2 linked regions of the Homo sapiens genome follow. The protein of the gene in region 1 purifies or fractionates together with the protein of each later gene. This does not show direct contact. Each region holds a gene or a part of one and is shown on either strand. Other genes may lie near its edges.

What was found.
Region 2: the proteins of PTX4 (region 1) and NPTXR purify together in Homo sapiens (affinity purification with mass spectrometry; one large-scale study listed by BioGRID and IntAct). This does not show direct contact.

What each region holds. Positions count from the first base shown.
Region 1 is NC_000016.10:1,485,967-1,490,463, reverse strand, and holds the start of PTX4 (pentraxin-4 isoform 1 precursor), read left to right. Parts: upstream 1-1,519; 5' UTR 1,520-1,554; coding exon 1,555-1,695; intron 1,696-1,996; coding exon of another isoform or gene 1,997-2,122; intron 2,123-2,493; coding exon 2,494-3,148; intron 3,149-3,884; coding exon 3,885-4,497.
Region 2 is NC_000022.11:38,823,250-38,827,054, reverse strand, and holds part of NPTXR (neuronal pentraxin receptor precursor), read left to right. Parts: intron 1-307; coding exon 308-555; intron 556-3,792; coding exon 3,793-3,805. UniProt on the Homo sapiens protein: May be involved in mediating uptake of synaptic material during synapse remodeling or in mediating the synaptic clustering of AMPA glutamate receptors at a subset of excitatory synapses.

The sequences.
Region 1 (4,497 bases):
ACTTTGTGGATGATCTTATTCCCATGAGCTGGGCGGCTTGAAACAACAGAAATGAGTCCTATCACAGTTCTGGGGGCTGGAAGTCTTGAAGTGAAGGTGCACACTCCCTCGAAGGCTCTGGGCTGGGGGTTCCCACTTTACCTCTTCCAGCTTCTGGGGCCTCTGGGGGTTCCTCGTGGCAGCGTCACCCCAGTCTCTGCCCCATCTTCACAGGCCGTGTCCTCTGTGCCTCCTCCTCTGTCTCTTGTACCCCTGTCATTGGCTTTAGGGCCACCTGGATAATCCAGGATGGTCTCATCTCAAAATCCTTCATGACATCCGCAGAGACCTTTTCCACATAAGGCCCTGCCTGGGGCTTATGTGTGTTTTTAGGAGGGTCTCATTCAAGCCAGTACACAACCTGTAACCAAAAATACCAGCCTGGCCCACATGGGGCAACCCCGTCTCTACTACAAATACAAAAATTGGCCGGGCGCGGTGGCTCATGCCTGTAATCCCAGCATTTCGGGAGGCTACAGCGGGTGGATCACCTGAGGTCGGGAGTTTGAGACCAGCCTGGCCCACATGGTGAAACCCCGTCTCTACTAAAAATACAAAAATTAGCCGGATGTGGGGGCACATACCTGTAATCCCAGCTACTTGGGAGGCTGAGACAGGAGAATCCGTTAAACCCAGGAGGCGGAGCTTGTGGTGAGCGGAGATCGCACCACTGCACTCCAGCCTGGGTGACAGAGCAAGACTCCGTCAAAAAAATTAATTAATTGGCCAGGCGCAGTGGCTCATGCCTGTAATCCGAACACTTAGGGAGGCTGAGGCAGGCAAATCATGAGGTCAGAAGTTTGAGACCAGCCTGACCAACATAGTGAAACCCCATCTCTACTAAAAATACTAAAATTAGCCGGGCATGGTAAAGCACGCCTGTAATCCCAGCTCCTCAGGAGGCAGGAGGCTGAGGAAGGAGAATCGCTTGAGCCGGGGAGGCAGAGGTTGCAGTGAGCTGAGATTGCGCCATTGCACTCTAGCCTAGGCAACAGAACGAGACTCCATCTCAAATAATAATAATAATTAATTAATTAAGGTGGCTCCCAGTCACATTTCCATTGCTTTACTGAGAGAGACGGGGCCTCCCAGGATGCAGCCGTGCACGGCCTGGGTGATGGGTGCCTGTGCAGACCTGGCTCTGTTGACTCCCCAGCCCCCGTCGGGTTCCCTGTCTTGCTTCGACTTCTCGGGAGCACAAGTCCATGTGCTCCTGTTAAAGCCATCGCCTCCTGCCCGCGGGCTTGCACCCAGCTGAATGATTCTTCAAAGAAACTGTTTGCATCTGTTTTAAGCTTGTCTCCTTAGGAACCTGCAAGTCTCAGAGCCCACTGGCTTGAAGGCAGATGCCTTTCATGGAGGCGGCAGGAAGAACCTGACATCCAGCCAGGGCCAAAGAAGGAAAACCACTCAACAGGAGAGCTGGGGGGACGAGACACAAGACAGACCCACGGAGCCACCTTCACCCTCTCCTGCGGCTGGAGGGAGACTGCTGGGGCCTTGCCGTCTCTCCGGATGGGTTGCTCGTGGAGGAAGACCTTGTCTTTCTTCCTTGTTTTTGTGCCTATATATCTACATGGGGCTTCATCGCAGGAAGCCGCCCCAGTGGGGCCCAGGAAACCGTTTTTCGAGAGGCTCCGTAGGCTGGAGGAACAGGCAAGTTATACCCCTGACATGGCGCAGTCGGGTTTTTAAATTGGCAGCAGATGGAAGACGGATGTTACAGAAGCAGATTGGTAAACATCAGGGCTTGGCGGACACGAACACCGCGTGTGACGCTCTTTCCATCCATGAAGATTATTTCACCTGCAGTTGGACACCAGGGAAGAGCTGAGCTGGGCTCCACTCACACAGGACACAAGCCTCATAACATGTGGGGGTCAGGTGGGGCCAGAGGCTAGAAGGGGGTCTGGAAGGGAGTCAGGGGAACTGGGGGCCATGGGGGCCGGGTAGTGTCATGGGGAGTGGAAACTGGGAGGTCACAGGTCCACCTTGTGGCAGTCGGTGTGAACGGCCTCCCGGACTCCCACGCGGGGTCCACGGACAGTTCCGGAGTGCTGTGGGCCTGTCGGGCCTGCGCTGGGTGCTTCCTGTTTGGGCCTCGTAAAGCACTCATGAGGCCACCCTGCCGTCCCCTGCTCACAGGCAGGAGCTGGAATCACGAGGGAAAGTGACTTGCCGGTGGTTATGGGGTGAGCGGTGGGGATCAGAGCCCCAGCTGTGGGCCTGGAGTCCACACCCCACGTGGTGCAGCTGCATGGCCTGGGGTCAGTCCCTGGCACCCACCACATCTCACGGCATCGCAGTGGGGATCAAATCGGTGGGCAGATAGCCAGTGCTGGCCGTGGCCCGGGCACGCGGCCGCTGCTCCCAACTTGAGAGGGCAAAGCCTTTCCCGTCCCGCCCAGCCGGCCCGGCCCGGCCCGCCCCATCATCACCGTGTCCTCCTTACAGTTCCGGAGATTCCAGGAGGTGACCTGGACACACCTGCAGAACATCGCCAGCAACTACAACGTGTCCTACAACGTTGACGTCCGGTTCCGGAGCCTGGCGGAAGAGAGCCAGGCTGTGGCTCAGGCAGTCAACCGGTCACAGGCCTCGGTGCAGGGGGAGCTGGCGCAGCTCAAGGCCTGGGTGAGGAAGCTGCAGCGCCGAGGCCGGAAAGTAGACACGCGGCTGCGGGCCTTGGACCTCACCCTGGGCGAGAGGAGCCAGCAGCGGGCCCGGGAAAGGAAGGCACACAAGGCCCAGAGGGACGCCCTGCAGGACTCACTGGCACGCCTGGAGGGCCTCGTCCACAGCCAGGGCGCCAGGCTGGCTGCTCTGGAGGGGCGGCTGCCCGTGGCCCACCCTGGCACTGCAGCCCTCGGGCCGGCCCTGGTCCCAACCCCAACCCAGCCTGAGGAGCTGGGCCCGACCTCCCTGAAGCTTCAGAGGGACAGGCAGGAGCTCCGAGCTGCCTCTGAGCACAGGGGCCCCCCACAGGACTCCTCGGCCCCTCTCCAAGGGAGGCGGGAGCCTCCAGCCTCAGGCAGCCATCGGGTACTCAGTGGGACTGCCCCAAAAGACCCTCGGCAGCAGGCATGGTCCCCCCAGGTGCCAGGAGAGAGTAAGTACCACAGGCTCCCAGCTCACGGCCAGGCTTCCCTCCAGCTCCTCCTTAGACCAGGCCCCCTGGAAAAGGCTTCTCAAAAGAGGTTCAGTTAGGGGCCGGGAGATGGGGAGAGGGTCTCGGATCATCGGGGGGGGTGGCCCACCGTCATCACAGAGGCTTTCTAAGGGGAGGCAGGAGGAACACAGTCAGAGGAGGGCGTGAGGGCAGAAGCAGAGGTGGCGGGATGCACAGACGAGGAGGCCCCACGCCGAAGGGTGCAGGCGCCTCTGGAAGCTGGAAAGGGCGGGAGATGGTTTCTCCTGGAGCCTCCAGAGGAACCAGCCCTGTCCACACCTGATTTGAGCCCTGGGAGACCGTGTTGGCCTTGTGACCGCCAGAAATGTGAAACACTAAACCTGCGCTGTTGTGAGTCATGAAATTTGCAGAGACTCCCTGGCAGTGAGGGGCGCTGGCTCAGCTGGGTGGGCCGACAGCTAGGGCTCCTAGCAGGACCCCGCCACTCCCGAGTACGGCCCTCATGTTCAGTCTTCCCGCCTGTGGAACTGGGGTGATCCCATCAAGAGAGTGAAGGAGACGCTGCAGGGGAGCCATCGGCAGGGCCAGCGCAGAGTCAGTGCTCCGTGAAGGGTGGCAGCCGGGAGTGGGAGGCCAGGCACCCACAGCACGTGTGCTTCTGGATGCTTCTGCTCGGCCTCCTGCAAGGGGTTGACCCTCCCTCCTCTGTTTCTAGTTTGCGGCGTGGGCCCCACCCTCGTTTTCCCAAACGCCTCCACCAGGAACGTGGTCTTCCTCAGCCCTGGTTTCGTCACTGCCCTGCGAGCCCTGTCCTTCTGCAGCTGGGTCCGCACGGCCTCCGGCCGCCTGGGCACCCTCCTGTCCTACGCCACCGAGGACAATGACAACAAGCTGGTGCTGCACGGCCGAGACTCCCTGCTGCCCGGATCCATCCACTTCGTGATCGGGGACCCGGCCTTCAGGGAGCTGCCCTTGCAGCTGCTGCTGGACGGCCAGTGGCACCACATCTGTGTCATCTGGACGTCCACCCAGGGCAGGTACTGGCTCCACGTGGATCGCAGGCTGGTGGCCACCGGCTCCCGCTTCAGGGAGGGCTATGAGATCCCCCCCGGAGGGTCCCTCGTGCTGGGCCAGGAACAAGACAGCGTGGGGGGCGGATTCGACAGCTCCGAGGCCTTCGTGGGGAGCATGTCTGGCTTGGCTATCTGGGATCGGGCGCTGGTTCCCGGGGAAGTTGCAAACCTTGCCATCGGGAAAGAGTTCCCGACAGGTGCCATCCTGACGCTGGCCAATGCTGCACTAGCAGGCGGATTTGTGCAGGGGGCCAA
Region 2 (3,805 bases), on another chromosome or scaffold:
CCTCCAGCCCTCCTCAGCCCTGCCTCTGGCCTGTCTACCCCGGGTCTCCCAACAAGTTTAATTTGTTGACGGTCACGTGGCTGGGAAGTGGGGGAGACGAGATTTGGTCTCAGGACATCTAAGGTCCAGAGCCCCTGCACTTTAATCACACCCCTCAACACAGAGGTGGAGCAGAGAGAGCCCTGAAGGCACTGGGCATGCAGCAGGTGCCTGGGAGCTGTTAGCCATCTTTCTGAAGTGTGCCCTGTCCACCCCACCCTTTTCGGTGTCCACCGACCTCCACCATGTCTGCCTTGCCCACCCTCAGGGTCCTCAGCCTACAGTCCTCCAGATGCCTTCAAGATCAGCATCCCCATCCGTAACAACTACATGTACGCCCGCGTGCGGAAGGCTCTGCCCGAGCTCTACGCATTCACCGCCTGCATGTGGCTGCGGTCCAGGTCCAGCGGCACCGGCCAGGGCACCCCCTTCTCCTACTCAGTGCCCGGGCAGGCCAACGAGATTGTACTGCTAGAGGCGGGCCATGAGCCCATGGAGCTGCTGATCAACGACAAGGTAGGCAGGGCTGGCAGGGAGGGCTGGCTGGGGGAGGGCCACCCTTCCAGAAGCACCCACTCCACACTGGGCTCTTTCATTCTCCTGCTCATTCTCCTGCTCTGCATATTCAGCACACATTAAGTACCTACCGTGTGCTAGGCTGGGCTCTGGGAATATAAAGACAAGCCAGACATGGAGCTGCCGGAAGAGAGGCTGTGTCCAATAGAGGCTCTAAGTGTTGTTCCATTTTACAGAGGAGGCAAGTGAAGCTCTTGGGGATCCAGTGACTTCCCCAGTGACCCAGCTATGGGACAGGGCTGAGGTGTCTGCCCCCAGGGCCCTGCTCATCATCCTGGACTTAAAGAGAAGGGAGGTGGCCGGGCGCACTGGCTCATGCCTGTAATCCCAGCACTTTGGGAGGCCGAGGCGGGCGGATCACGAGGTCAGGAGATTGAGACCATCCTGGCTAACATGGTGAAACCCCATCTCTACTAAAAATACAAAAAAATTAGCCGGGTGTGGTGGTGGGCACCTGTAGTCCCAGCTACTCGGGAGGCTGAGGCAGGAGAATGGCCAGAACCCGAGAGGCAGAGCTTGCAGTGAGCTAAGATCGCACCACTGCACTCCAGCCTGGGCGACAGAGGAAGACTCTGTGTCAAAAAAAAAAAAAAAAAAAAGAGAGAGAGAGAAGGGAGGTGCACAGACCTACCTGGGGATGGAGGGAGGAAGGGAGTGCTTGTGGCCTCCTCGTTCCTTCTACTTCCCTGGAGCCAGCCCCTCGGGCCCTCCCCGCTATGGAGAGTAGAAAGGTGTTGTGCTCAGGCTCTGGGACCCAAATGCTGGTTTGAGTCTTGGTTCTGCATCTTCACCATTGTGTGACCTCAGACTAGTCTTCTACTTGCCCTGTGCCTCAGTTTGCTTATCTCTAAAGCAGGAATGATAAGAACTCTTGTCTCTTAGGGTTGTAGTGAGAAGTGGCTTAAATGCATGTAGAGGGCTTTGAGCAGATCCTAGCGTTTAGCAGACATCAATAACTGTGAGCTATTTTTATTATACTGGGCACTGTGCTAATAAGCAGTTTACTCACATTATTACCCTTGACCTTCCCAACAGCACTGGGAAGTAGGTACCCTCATTATCCCCATTTTGCAGATGGAGAAACTGAGGCTCAGAGAGGGGAAGTAATGCACCCTGGCCACACAGCTGCTGGGGTGTGATGTGATTCAGGGTCTTGGGCTCCGGAAACCACCTTTTAACCCCTCCCCTGTTCTGCCCTTGGGCCACCCATCTTCCTCATGCCCAGGCCTCCCTCCCCGATGCCCCTCCTTCAGCCTGGCTGGAAGGCAGGACAAGGACAAGGCAGGGAGAATGATGTGGCAGGAGCATGGTAATTGAGGGGAGAGGAAGGGGAGCATCTCATCACTGTCATCCACTCCTAAAGCTCCTCCCCAACCTGCCACATTGTTTTGGGCCTTGCAGGCATGGTGGTCTATTGAGACCCCCCTGGAAATGCAGATACCACATATCGTACCCACCTGTGACCAGCCCACAACACATAAAGCCACTAGGAGTGATTGATACCCATCAGACCCAGCTTAGCAGAAGGTGCATTTCATGGCATTCTGGAGGGGGAGGAGGAGGAGGGAGGAGATGAGTCCAGGGACCAGTGACTTTCCCTTGTGGCCCAATAAACCCTACGACCACCGGGGTGGCTGGACTACATCTAGATCCTGCTGCCTTGTGCCCTTCATCACCCCCTGGCTGCCGTCCTTGGCCTGGCCCAAGTTCAGCACTCAGTTCTCATTAGAAGGAATTCAGCACCCTGGACAGGGCATTGGGCAGCCCTGTTCTGGGACGCTCTAGAGTCCTTTTGAGAGCCAGCCTAACAGACTGCTCACTGTTCCCTTTTTATTCCAGCCTCTAAGCCTTTACTCCTTCTGTGCCCACCACTTGTTTTGCCTAGCAATGGAATGGTGGATCCATTGTCCTTCCAGACGGGTTTTGACGTGGCTTCTGTTCCCATATCCCCTCTACCTCTGGGCCTCGCAGCCTCTGTACCTCCCATATGCCCTCCGTTATTTTGTCTTATAGCATTGCCCCAAAGTCCTTCCCCTCCTGCAGACTCAGCTCATTTAAGGCGTGGACCAGCTCCACATCCCCAGGATCCACAACAAGGCCAGGCACCACGTAGGCCTCAGAGAATGTTACATTAAATTGTGATCTCAGGCTGGGTAAGGTGGCTCTTGCCTGTAATCCCAGCACTCTGAGAGGCTGAGGTGGGTGGATCATCTGAGGTCAGGAGTTCAAGACCAGGCTGGCCAATATGGTGAAATCCCGCCGTTTCTACTAAAAATACAAAAAAAAAAAAAAAAAAATAGCTGGGCATGGTGGTGCACGCCTGTAATCCCAGCTACTTGGGAGGCTGAGGGAGGAGAATTGCTTGAACCAGGAGATGGAGGCTGTGGTGAGCTGAGATCACACCACTGCACTCTATCCTGGGCAACATAGTGAAATTCCATCTCAAAAAAAAAAATGTGACCTCAGGAAACTTACCAGATGAGGAAGCCCTTTGGGAGCACCAAATCCACAGACAGCAAGCACCTTTCATCTTACAGGCCAGCTCTAACCCATCAGCAGTGGCTTTCCAGAGCACTGTGCTGAGGGATCTGAGCTAAATCGAGGCTCGTGATTGATTGGCTATGTCTGCCCTGGGTGGAGGAAGATTTGCCATCCCTTGCAGACTTGTCATCCCTTGTCTGACCTCACTTTACAGATAAGGAAACTGAGGCCCAGGGAGGAAGGAGCAGCCTCCCCAGATCACACAGGGGTTGGTGGCAGAGCCAGGGCCAGATGCTGGAGCCTGGCCTCTGAGTCCAAGGCTCATTCTATCCCTGCCAGTACTTCTTGAGCCCTAGCTGTGTGCTGAGTGCTGTGTGAGGTGTTCAGGGGAAGTTGGGATTATGAGACATCCCTCTCTCCCCAAGTGACCTTAATAGGCCTGTTGGAGAGTGAGTGAACTACCTTGTGACAACTGAAAACCAAAACCAGAGAGTCCCTTGTGATCTGGTTTGGTCTTTGAGGAAAGAGGAGACAGGAGTCAGGGAAAGACACTGGGCAGGAGGATGGAGAGGGTCAGGCCTGGGGTCGGGCCCTGGAAGGATGGACATGGGTCTCCCCAGCCCCACCCCACTGCCTCAGCCATGGGCCTTGGGCCTTGGGGCACCTCTGACCTGGGGTTGGGGGACCTGTGTCCAGGTGGCCCAGCTGC